Linked DNA regions of Homo sapiens: regions 2 and 3 are each linked to region 1. The links come from fine-mapping of genetic effects on gene expression. A gene starts in region 1. Each other region holds a variant in brackets. All regions are shown on one strand. Distances are between the middles of the regions.

The links. PIP is the estimated chance that this variant, and not a neighbour inherited with it, causes the effect. A credible set is the group of variants that fine-mapping cannot tell apart.
Region 2: its variant is the best candidate, but not a certain one, in a credible set for the expression of ERGIC1 in naive CD4 T cells (Schmiedel 2018, PIP 0.52).
Region 3: its variant is the best candidate, but not a certain one, in a credible set for the expression of ERGIC1 in esophagus mucosa (GTEx, PIP 0.55).

What each region holds. Positions count from the first base shown.
Region 1 is chr5:172,832,669-172,835,420 of GRCh38, forward strand. It overlaps ERGIC1 (endoplasmic reticulum-golgi intermediate compartment 1), which reads left to right and starts at 1,583. Exons shown (of 10, transcript NM_001031711.3): 1 at 1,583-1,765. The coding sequence starts at 1,746. RefSeq lists silencers at 1,436-1,835, 2,206-2,255, 2,266-2,345 and an enhancer at 2,329-2,752.
Region 2 is chr5:172,943,639-172,946,386 of GRCh38, forward strand. The region is part of intron 9 of ERGIC1 (endoplasmic reticulum-golgi intermediate compartment 1); the gene reads left to right. Among named protein-coding and RNA genes, the nearest start is that of RPL26L1-AS1, 14 kb to the right of the region's middle. The variant A/G (reference allele first, on the strand shown) is at 1,211.
Region 3 is chr5:172,858,655-172,861,406 of GRCh38, forward strand. All of the region lies in intron 1 of ERGIC1 (endoplasmic reticulum-golgi intermediate compartment 1), which reads left to right. Among named protein-coding and RNA genes, the nearest start is that of ERGIC1, 26 kb to the left of the region's middle. RefSeq lists an enhancer at 514-1,514. The variant AG/A (reference allele first, on the strand shown) is at 1,499.

The DNA of each region.
Region 1 (2,752 bases):
AAGGAAGCTGGGGAAATGCAACTTTCACTGTGAGCACCCACATGCCCAGCCAAAAGTTGGGAGCTCTATCCCCACTCGAAAAGAGCAATGATAGTCAACCCTGTCTTGCATTTACTCTGTGCCAGGCATTTGCTGACCTTGGATATCATCCCAAATGCACACTTGATTCAGTAGGTCTGGCCTGGGGACAAGAGTCTGTCCTGTGATGGCCATGTGGCTGGTCTGTGGACCACAGTTTGAGGAGGGAGGATTCGAGGTCAAAGATCCATCATTGCATGTTTCCTCCCACACAGGGCCAACGAATGGCTGTTTGGAAGCAGTGGCTGCTCAAGATCCCTTAACTCTCCCTGCTGTCCCTAGGTTTCCAGTTCAGGCTGAGATTTCCTTTTCTCCCCCAACAGTGTCAGACCACTGACACTGAATGAATGAATGAATGAATGAGTGAATGAATGAAAAGGGAACGCAGAGGTCAGGTCCCGGCATATGCTCTAGGGGAAGGCTTTGGTTCACCACGTCACCCTACCCCAGACCCCGTGCTAGTGTTGTCCCTTCTGAATCCTCCCGGAGGAACCAGCACTGCTGTTCCCCTCTATTTACACAGGGGGAAACTGTCCATTGACTCTGCTTTTGGAACCCGAGCCCTCACCATTCTCCCCTGGGTTTTTTGAAGCCCTGTCCCACCACAACCTTGGAGAAAGGGCCAGTGACAGAACCTCGGGGAAGTTCAGAGTGAGTTTCCCCTACTCAGGTCTTGTGTGACCTCAACTACCATCTCCTCTAATCCAGCAGTCACGGAGGCAGCTGCTCTGTATTCCTGAGGAGGAAACTGAGGCTCTAAGAAGGAGACAATCGGCACAGTCCACGTTGGCCAAGTCACAGTGCAGGTCCCATCTGCCTCTGCCACAACCCTGCATGTTCTCGATGGACCTGGTTCAGAGCAGATGCTCTGTGAATGCCCACTGGAGTGAACGACAGGGGCAGATGGAAGCAGGGACAGCCACTGCCAGCCTCAATAGTTTCAGGTGCCTGGCACTGTGCTAAGCCAGTCTCCTGTTTCTCAGCTGATCCCCAGGAAAACCCCCTCAAGTAGGTGTCATCGTCCTCTTTGTGCAGATATGCAAAAGGGGCGGGGCGGGGGGGGGGCGCTCTGAGAAGCCCAGTGGCTTTCCCAGAGAGACACGGCAGGGGCAGAGGTGAGTCCACCTTAACAGCCTAGGATGGCCGACCTCTTCCCTTCCCCCACAGTATTAGGCCCTCACTCAGAGCTAGACGCTGTGCACGGCCAAAGTCTGTATCACCCCGCCCCCCGCCCCCAACTCAATCACAGTTCAGTGAAACTGTTTACAAATGCAAAAAACTGGGCTCGGAGAAGCAGAGAATTTGTCCGAGGGCATCCAAAGAGATGGAGAAGGAAATCTAAGTGGGAGGCTTGAAGGAATGAGTACTGGAGTCTTTGGGGGACTCCCTTCCCTTCCGACAGCCTCGACTCTCCGCCCCTTCCCTGCCTGCCCGCGGGCCCCTTTAACCGGGTGGCGGAAGGGGCGGCCGGGCGGGCGGCGCCCAATGGGCTGCGCGGAGCGTCACTTCCCGGCAGCGGGAGGCGAGTGGCGAGTGGCGAGTGGCGAGTGTCAGGGGGGCGGCCGGCGGGGGCGGGGCGGCCGGAGGAGGCGTTGGCAGCGGGCTCGGACCCACGCGGCGCCGCGGCCCGCCTGGCCTGCAGCGCTCCCACCCCCGGCGGCGGCACGATGCCCTTTGACTTCAGGAGGTGAGTGTGGCGACCCCGGCCAGTCGGGAGTTCCCTCAGCGGGCAGAGGGAGCGCCCCGGCACGCCGCGGACCCCTCCCGCCCTGCATGCAAAAGCGGCTCCCCGCCCTGTGCATGCCTCCGCAGGCCCCTAGGGACCCCAGGCGAGCCCCCCCCCTGCCGCACACGAAGCCAGCCAGAGCCGCGGAGGCCCCCTCGTGCAGCGGGAGACAAATCCACCCACCTTCCCTCCGCCGAGCCCCCTCCCCAGCCTGCCCGGATACCTTGCATTCCCCTCCCCCACACTAGGAAACATTTCCTCCCTCCTCCCAGATGGGAACAGCCCATAACACCCCAGCATCCCTCTCCTCCCTCTACTGAGCCTCCTTGGTGGACCCCACCTCAGCTGACAGGTGGGGCAGGGCACCTGGAATGAGTCCGGAGGGGCCTGGGGCCCCATGCAGCCTGCCGGCAGCTGGAGGGTTTTAAGTTTCTATAGCCTGAGGCTCCCCCAGGCCGGGCAGATCGGGAGGCCTGCCCCCGCCCCTCCCTCCCTCAGCCCCAGCCCTGTCCGCTGGGTATGGGGGCACCATGGGAAGGGGAGGAGGCGCCTTGGGCAGGACTCTGCAGAAGGGCCACCGGGGTCTGGCCTTGGCTTTCTGCAGTCACCACAATGGGTCCTTTGTGGGGTCCAGCTGCCTCATGGTCTAGGTTGCATGGGGCATTCTGGAAGCCTGCGGGGGAAGAGATCTCCACCAGAGGTTCCCTTGAGGTGTGGAGCCCCAGGGGATGTCCTGGCCTGAGGCAGCCACACTTGGTGTCTGGCTGGGAAAAGAGCAGGGCTTTAATGCAGGGAGGAGCTGGATTAGAATCCTGGCTCTGCCCTTTCTACTGAACAGCTCGGTATATTCTAGAAGTTAGGGGCAAAGGCTCTGGGTTCAGAACTCCCTGTCGCCGCTCGGCTGGCTGACCTCAGCAAGTCTCCGAGCGCCCTCAGTTTCACCACCTG
Region 2 (2,748 bases), 110 kb after region 1:
GATGGGGCAACTGAGGCTCAGAGAGGTAAACTGGCTTTCCCAGCCAGGGCCACAGAGCTGGGATTGGACCGCAGGAGTGTTTACTCCAAAGCCCACAATCTCGCCTCCCACGGCGGTGTGTATGGTGCTTCTCCATTGCACGCTATGGGAGAGTAATGGGGAGGGGAGTAATGATGCACTGGGAAGGCGTTCGTGCTGGTGGAAAAACAGGCATTTAGTTCCCGCTCCAGTGCGGCTGGAACACATCCTTCTCATATTATAAGGAATTAAGAACCATAATGAAAATGTAAGGGAAACACACACGCACCCCTTTTAAAGGTAGACAAGCTGACTTCATTCTAGTCACAGTGGAAGGCCAAGAAGCTGACGGGACCCCTGGGAGGAAGTTGCTGGTGGGAACAGAGGGGCATTATCGGATGACGTCTGATGAATGCCACTTCCTGCACTGCCCTCAGACTCACTGGGGCCCAGGTATTGAATTGTCCTTGTTTTTGTTTCTGGAGCTGTGGCTGCTGCCCAGAGCAGTGGTGCATGCACTGGCCGAGGTGGCCCTCCCTGGCTCAGTGACCCTGCTCCCTCATCCCCGACGGGGAAGATCCCACCCTAGGTTGTCTCTGAGCCTTGAGGCCTGGTTGGGAGATACAAGAGCGTGGCAGTGGCAAGGGACCAAGCCACTCTCAGTCAATGCCACCACAGTCCTAGGGGGTGAGGATTAGTCTTCCTTTTTTTTTTTTTCTGAGACGGAGTTTCACTCTTGTTGCCCAGGCTGGTGTGCAGTGGCACGATCTTGGCTCACTGCAACCTCCACCTTCTGAGTTCAAGCAATTCTCCTGCCTCAGCCTCCTGAGTAGCTAGGATTACAGGCACCTGCCACCACGCTCAGCTAATTTTTGTATTTTTAGTAGAGACAGGGTTTCGCCTTGTTGGCCAGGCTGGTCTCGAACTCCCCACCTCAGGTGATCCACCCACCTCGGCCTCCCAAAGTGCTGGGATTACAGGCGTGAGCCGCCGCACCCGGCCAGTCTTCCCATTTTTAAAAGCCAGAAAACTGAGGCACTGGGAGCTAGGGTGGCACAAGAGCACATGGATGAGAGGAGTCCAAGCCAATTCTGCCAGCCTCCAAAGCCCAGGCCCTCTATGGCATCGCTTTCCAGGTGCAGGGTCTCCAGGCACAGCAACTTAGTGGAGAGGGGCACCTGCTGCCTGCCCC[A/G]TCCAGGGTCTCCCCCTCCAGGCCCACCTTTTCATCAGCACTGCCTTCCCCACGCCCCCGGCTGACACCCCTGAGCGAGTCACCTTTGCCGCTGCCTTGGGTGTGGAACCCTGTGCCTTTCCTGAGTAGTCATTCATTCCCTCACTCTGGAACCCACCCATTGGCTCCTCATTCTTTCTCTCACTCCTTTATTTATTCAACAAACACGTCTTGTGCACCTCCCATGTGGTCAGTTGTGTCTGCTATCTTCTCTCCCTTGGGCATTCAGGAAAATGAGAGTTTTCCCAATAGGCTTGAGGTGGTGAGATTCAGGGAGCTCCCTCACTGGCCAAAGGATGGAACCCACCTCTGGCCTAAGGTGCTTTGCCCCACAAGGATGTTCTTCATCACAAACACATCTTGGCAACTGCCTGAGGGAACAGGACACCCTGTCTGGGCCTCAGCTACCTGTTCTGTTGAATGGGTTGCTGTGTAACTTCAGAGGGCCCTTAGAGTGCGTGGGCCCCCAGCGGCCACAAAGAATCTGCCTGCGGTGCTGGGACACTCTTGCGGTCCTGTTCCTGTATGACTCGTCTTGCCTTCTGCTAAAAGTGCCAGAGAGAGAATGGAAGTTGAGACCCAAAGGCGTGCTCTGGGGAATAAGTAATATTTTACTGATTTTTCTGGTTAAAGTGGGTCTCAGGTTGAGACAATCCCATTTCTTGGCCATAAGGTTAGAGCCTTCCAGTGAACTGAAAGATTAAGATCAGGTTTCATTTACTGAGCATCTACTAGGTGCTAGGTGCTCCAGATGTATTTTCAGTAGAGCCGCAGGGGTTTTGTCGTTTTATTTTTATTTTTATGTATTTATTTTGGCAACAGAGTCTTGCTCTGTGACCTCGCCTGGAGTGCAGTGGCTGAATCTCGACTCACTGCAACCTCCACTTCCCAGGTTCAAGCAATTCTCATGCATCAGCCTCCCGAGTAGCTGGGATTACAGGCACCTGCCACCATGCCCAGCTAATTTTCGTATTTTCAGTAAAAACAGGGTTTCACCAAGTGACCAGGTTGGTCGCAATCTCCTGAGTTCACGTGATCCTCCTACCTTGGCCTCCCAAAGTGCAGGGGTTGCAGGCATGAGCCACTGCACCCGGCTGGCTTTCCTGTTTTATAGATGAAGAAACTGAGGCCCAGAAAGGCTCTCCCACGGCTAGAATTAGTAAGTGATGCCACGATGCAGCCTCCAAAGGCTGGGTGCTCTCTGCTGCCATGGCAGGAAAGCCGGGTGGACTCCCCAGCCCTCACCTCATGCCACCCTCACCATGTCCAGCAGGGAGGTGCACACCTCCCAGCCCCAGCTTTGTCCTGGACTCCCCTGGAGAGGCCCAGCTCTCCTCGCTCCTCTGTGTGAACAGCAACAGGCTGTGGGAACTAAGTGTCACGACTGCAATTTGCTTTCTTTTCAGTTTCATTCATTAGTGTTCCTCCCAGGCCCCATCCCCACAGCCCAGGGAAATGCCAATCAGCGTCTTCCCTCCTGCCAGCGGCACCCCTGCCCT
Region 3 (2,752 bases), 26 kb after region 1:
CGAGGAAAAGGCTGTTAGCATAGGCCCTACTGCGTACCTGGCAGACCCAAGTTCATCATCTCGGCTGACCTTACCAGCCCCCCGCTGGCATGGGTGGGGGTCCGCTGTTGTCCACAGAAAGAAAACAGGGCTGGGAGCTTGTGAGGGCCCTGCCCAAGATTCCAAGGCCCCTGCCAGCCAGATGTTTGGGGCCAAAGTCCATGCTTCCCTGCCCTGTGGGTAACACGGGGGAGATTACTGTTTGAAGTACTTTGGACAGTCACACCAGGTCAAAAGGTCTGTGTGGTCAAAAGCTACAAGGCCTGTGGCTGGGGGAGCTGTGCTGAGGACGTGATTTTGAGGCTTTCTTAGCCCAGACTTACCTTCATAGCTTCCTGGGATCTCCCAGGTCTGGGTCGTCATCGGCGCCCTTACCGGGGAGGGCTCTGCTCCCCTAAATGCCCCTGTGCACCTGCCCCAGCCCCTTCCCTCCTCCTGGTGCTTGGGTCATGTCGTTCCCTGTGCATGCCAGTCCCCTTACGTGCACATTTTTCCTCTATGATTTTTCCTGTTTTGATGAGACACTGCTCTTGGCCGTGCTGGTTCCCAAGAGGGGACCAGGCCCCGGCCTGGCCAGCTGGTCATTCAGGAACTTTGCTTCTAGGCCCAGCCCCACACCCAGCCACATTCCACTAGGGCCAGAACCTTTGAGCTCCGTGTGAATGGGGCATGTCCCACCCACCCCCAACTCCCATGGCCGCCTCCTTATCACCCTTCCCAGCTGACGGAAAAGGCCATATTCCATCCTGGAATTAGCTTTCCCCCATTTCTGTTTGCTTCCAGACTGAAGGGTGGGAAAAAAAAATGTCCTGAAGGTCACAGTGCCGTCCCAAGCCTTTGAAGTGTGGCTGCTCTCATTGGCTCCACTTAGCAGGATGAAACTGGGGCTCAGAGAGCTGCCGCAGGTGCCTGGTGCTGCTGGTCACTTCTTTGCCACCTCTGAGGGAATCACCTTAAAGGGGCCCCTGGAGCCCTCCGTAGCCCTCACACCTCATGTGCTGGGCCTGGGCTGGATTGCAGCCCTTGCTGCTATCCTCCGCAGGTGCCCTTGGACAGGGGACAGCCTGCCCAGCTGTACACAGTGGCCTTGGCAAGACCACAGCATGGCCCATAGGTGGTGGCTTCAGGATTTGGAAGCCCGGTTTCTCTAACTCCAAACTCCACAGTCAGTACTTTGGGGTTCTGGATTGTTTGTCGGCTGGGTTAGCTCTGTTCTATTTTTCCAACTGTTTCTTGCCTTTAAGCTGTGCTTTGCCTACAGGCCTTTTCTTAATTATTCAGCTCTGCCAGAGGTGCTTCTGTAGAAAGTACTTGTCCTGAGTAATTTCAAGCTTTTAATCTTACCTTTGAAGAAATATTTAACCATCCCATGCTCCTATATGTTTGTTCATTTCTTATTCATTCTTTCACCGAACAGCATTGATTCAGTGCCAGGGAGGGGCAGGGACAGAGGTGAACA[AG/A]ACATGTCTCCAGCCTCAGGTAGCTCAGGTGTGTGAGGCAGTGCGCTCAAGTGGGCTCATCAGTTCCCTGACGGGGAACTAGCAGAGGAGGGCAGGAGGGCGTGGAGAGGTATGGCAACCTTGAAGGACTTTGGTGATGGTGATGATCATAGCCAGCCCTGAATAGGGTTCTCTTTATGCCTGCACCATTCTGCCCCCTCACATCTGTTAACATGCTTCATCCCCACAACCAGTCATTAGGAACAACTTACACATTGGGAAGCCAAGGCACAGAGAAGTTATTTAACCTGCCCAGCGTTGCCTGAGCCAGGGCAGAGCTGGGGTTTGAACCCAGGCCTCCTGGCTCCTGCATCTGCCCCCCTCACCACTGCACCTCACTGCATGCACGGGAGCTCTTTGGATGCAGGGATGGGAGCGGTGTGTGCAAGCCTCAGAGCTGTGACCGTGAAAGAAACAGACTTCTCTGAGGCTTTGCTGCAGAATCTGGGCCAGCAGGTGTCTGGGAGGAAGCCACCCTTGGGCTGGGGCCAAGCATGGGTCCTGGGGTCAGGACAAGGAGAGGGACTGGTGCTTGAGTCCTTTTGGAGCTGCAGATCCATGGTGGGGCTTCTGAATGATCTTGTGTGAGGAAGGAGTCCAGGGTGTTAGCCACGCCTGTGTTTCTTTGTGAGCACAAAAACATATTCCATAGCCAGAGTTCCACAGTGTTTGGAGCTCTGCCTGAGAACCTAGGCTGGGACTGTGTGGGGAGGAAGGGCCGGCGAGAGCGGATGTAGGCTGAGCCAGCCTCGGCTGGAGACCGGCCCTGGCACTGACTGCCTGGGGTCACTCTGGGTGAAACTCATCCACCCTCCTGGGCACTCTGCGCTCTGCTTCAAATCCACCGCCGAAAACAAGCTGAGTCCTGCCCCAGCCTGCAGGGCCTGTGGGATGTGTCCTCCATCCGCCTCGCTGACCTCGTCCCATGCCACCTGCCCCTCCCTGCGTGCCAGCCGCAGTGGCCACCGCTGCTGCTGACACAGGCCAGCCACACACCCACCTCAGAGTCTTGGCCAAGCACTGGCCATTCCCTCTGCTCAGAATGCTCTTCCCAGGCACTTGGCGTAGTGGCTCCCTCCCTTCCCTCGGGTCTCTGCCCTGACCTCACCCAGCCTGCAGTGCCCTCTGTCCGGCTCTGTCAGACCCACGTGTTCTCTTTCATAGCTCCTCCCACCCTCTGGAACAGTCCCATCTCCCTTTGGCTTGTTTATTAT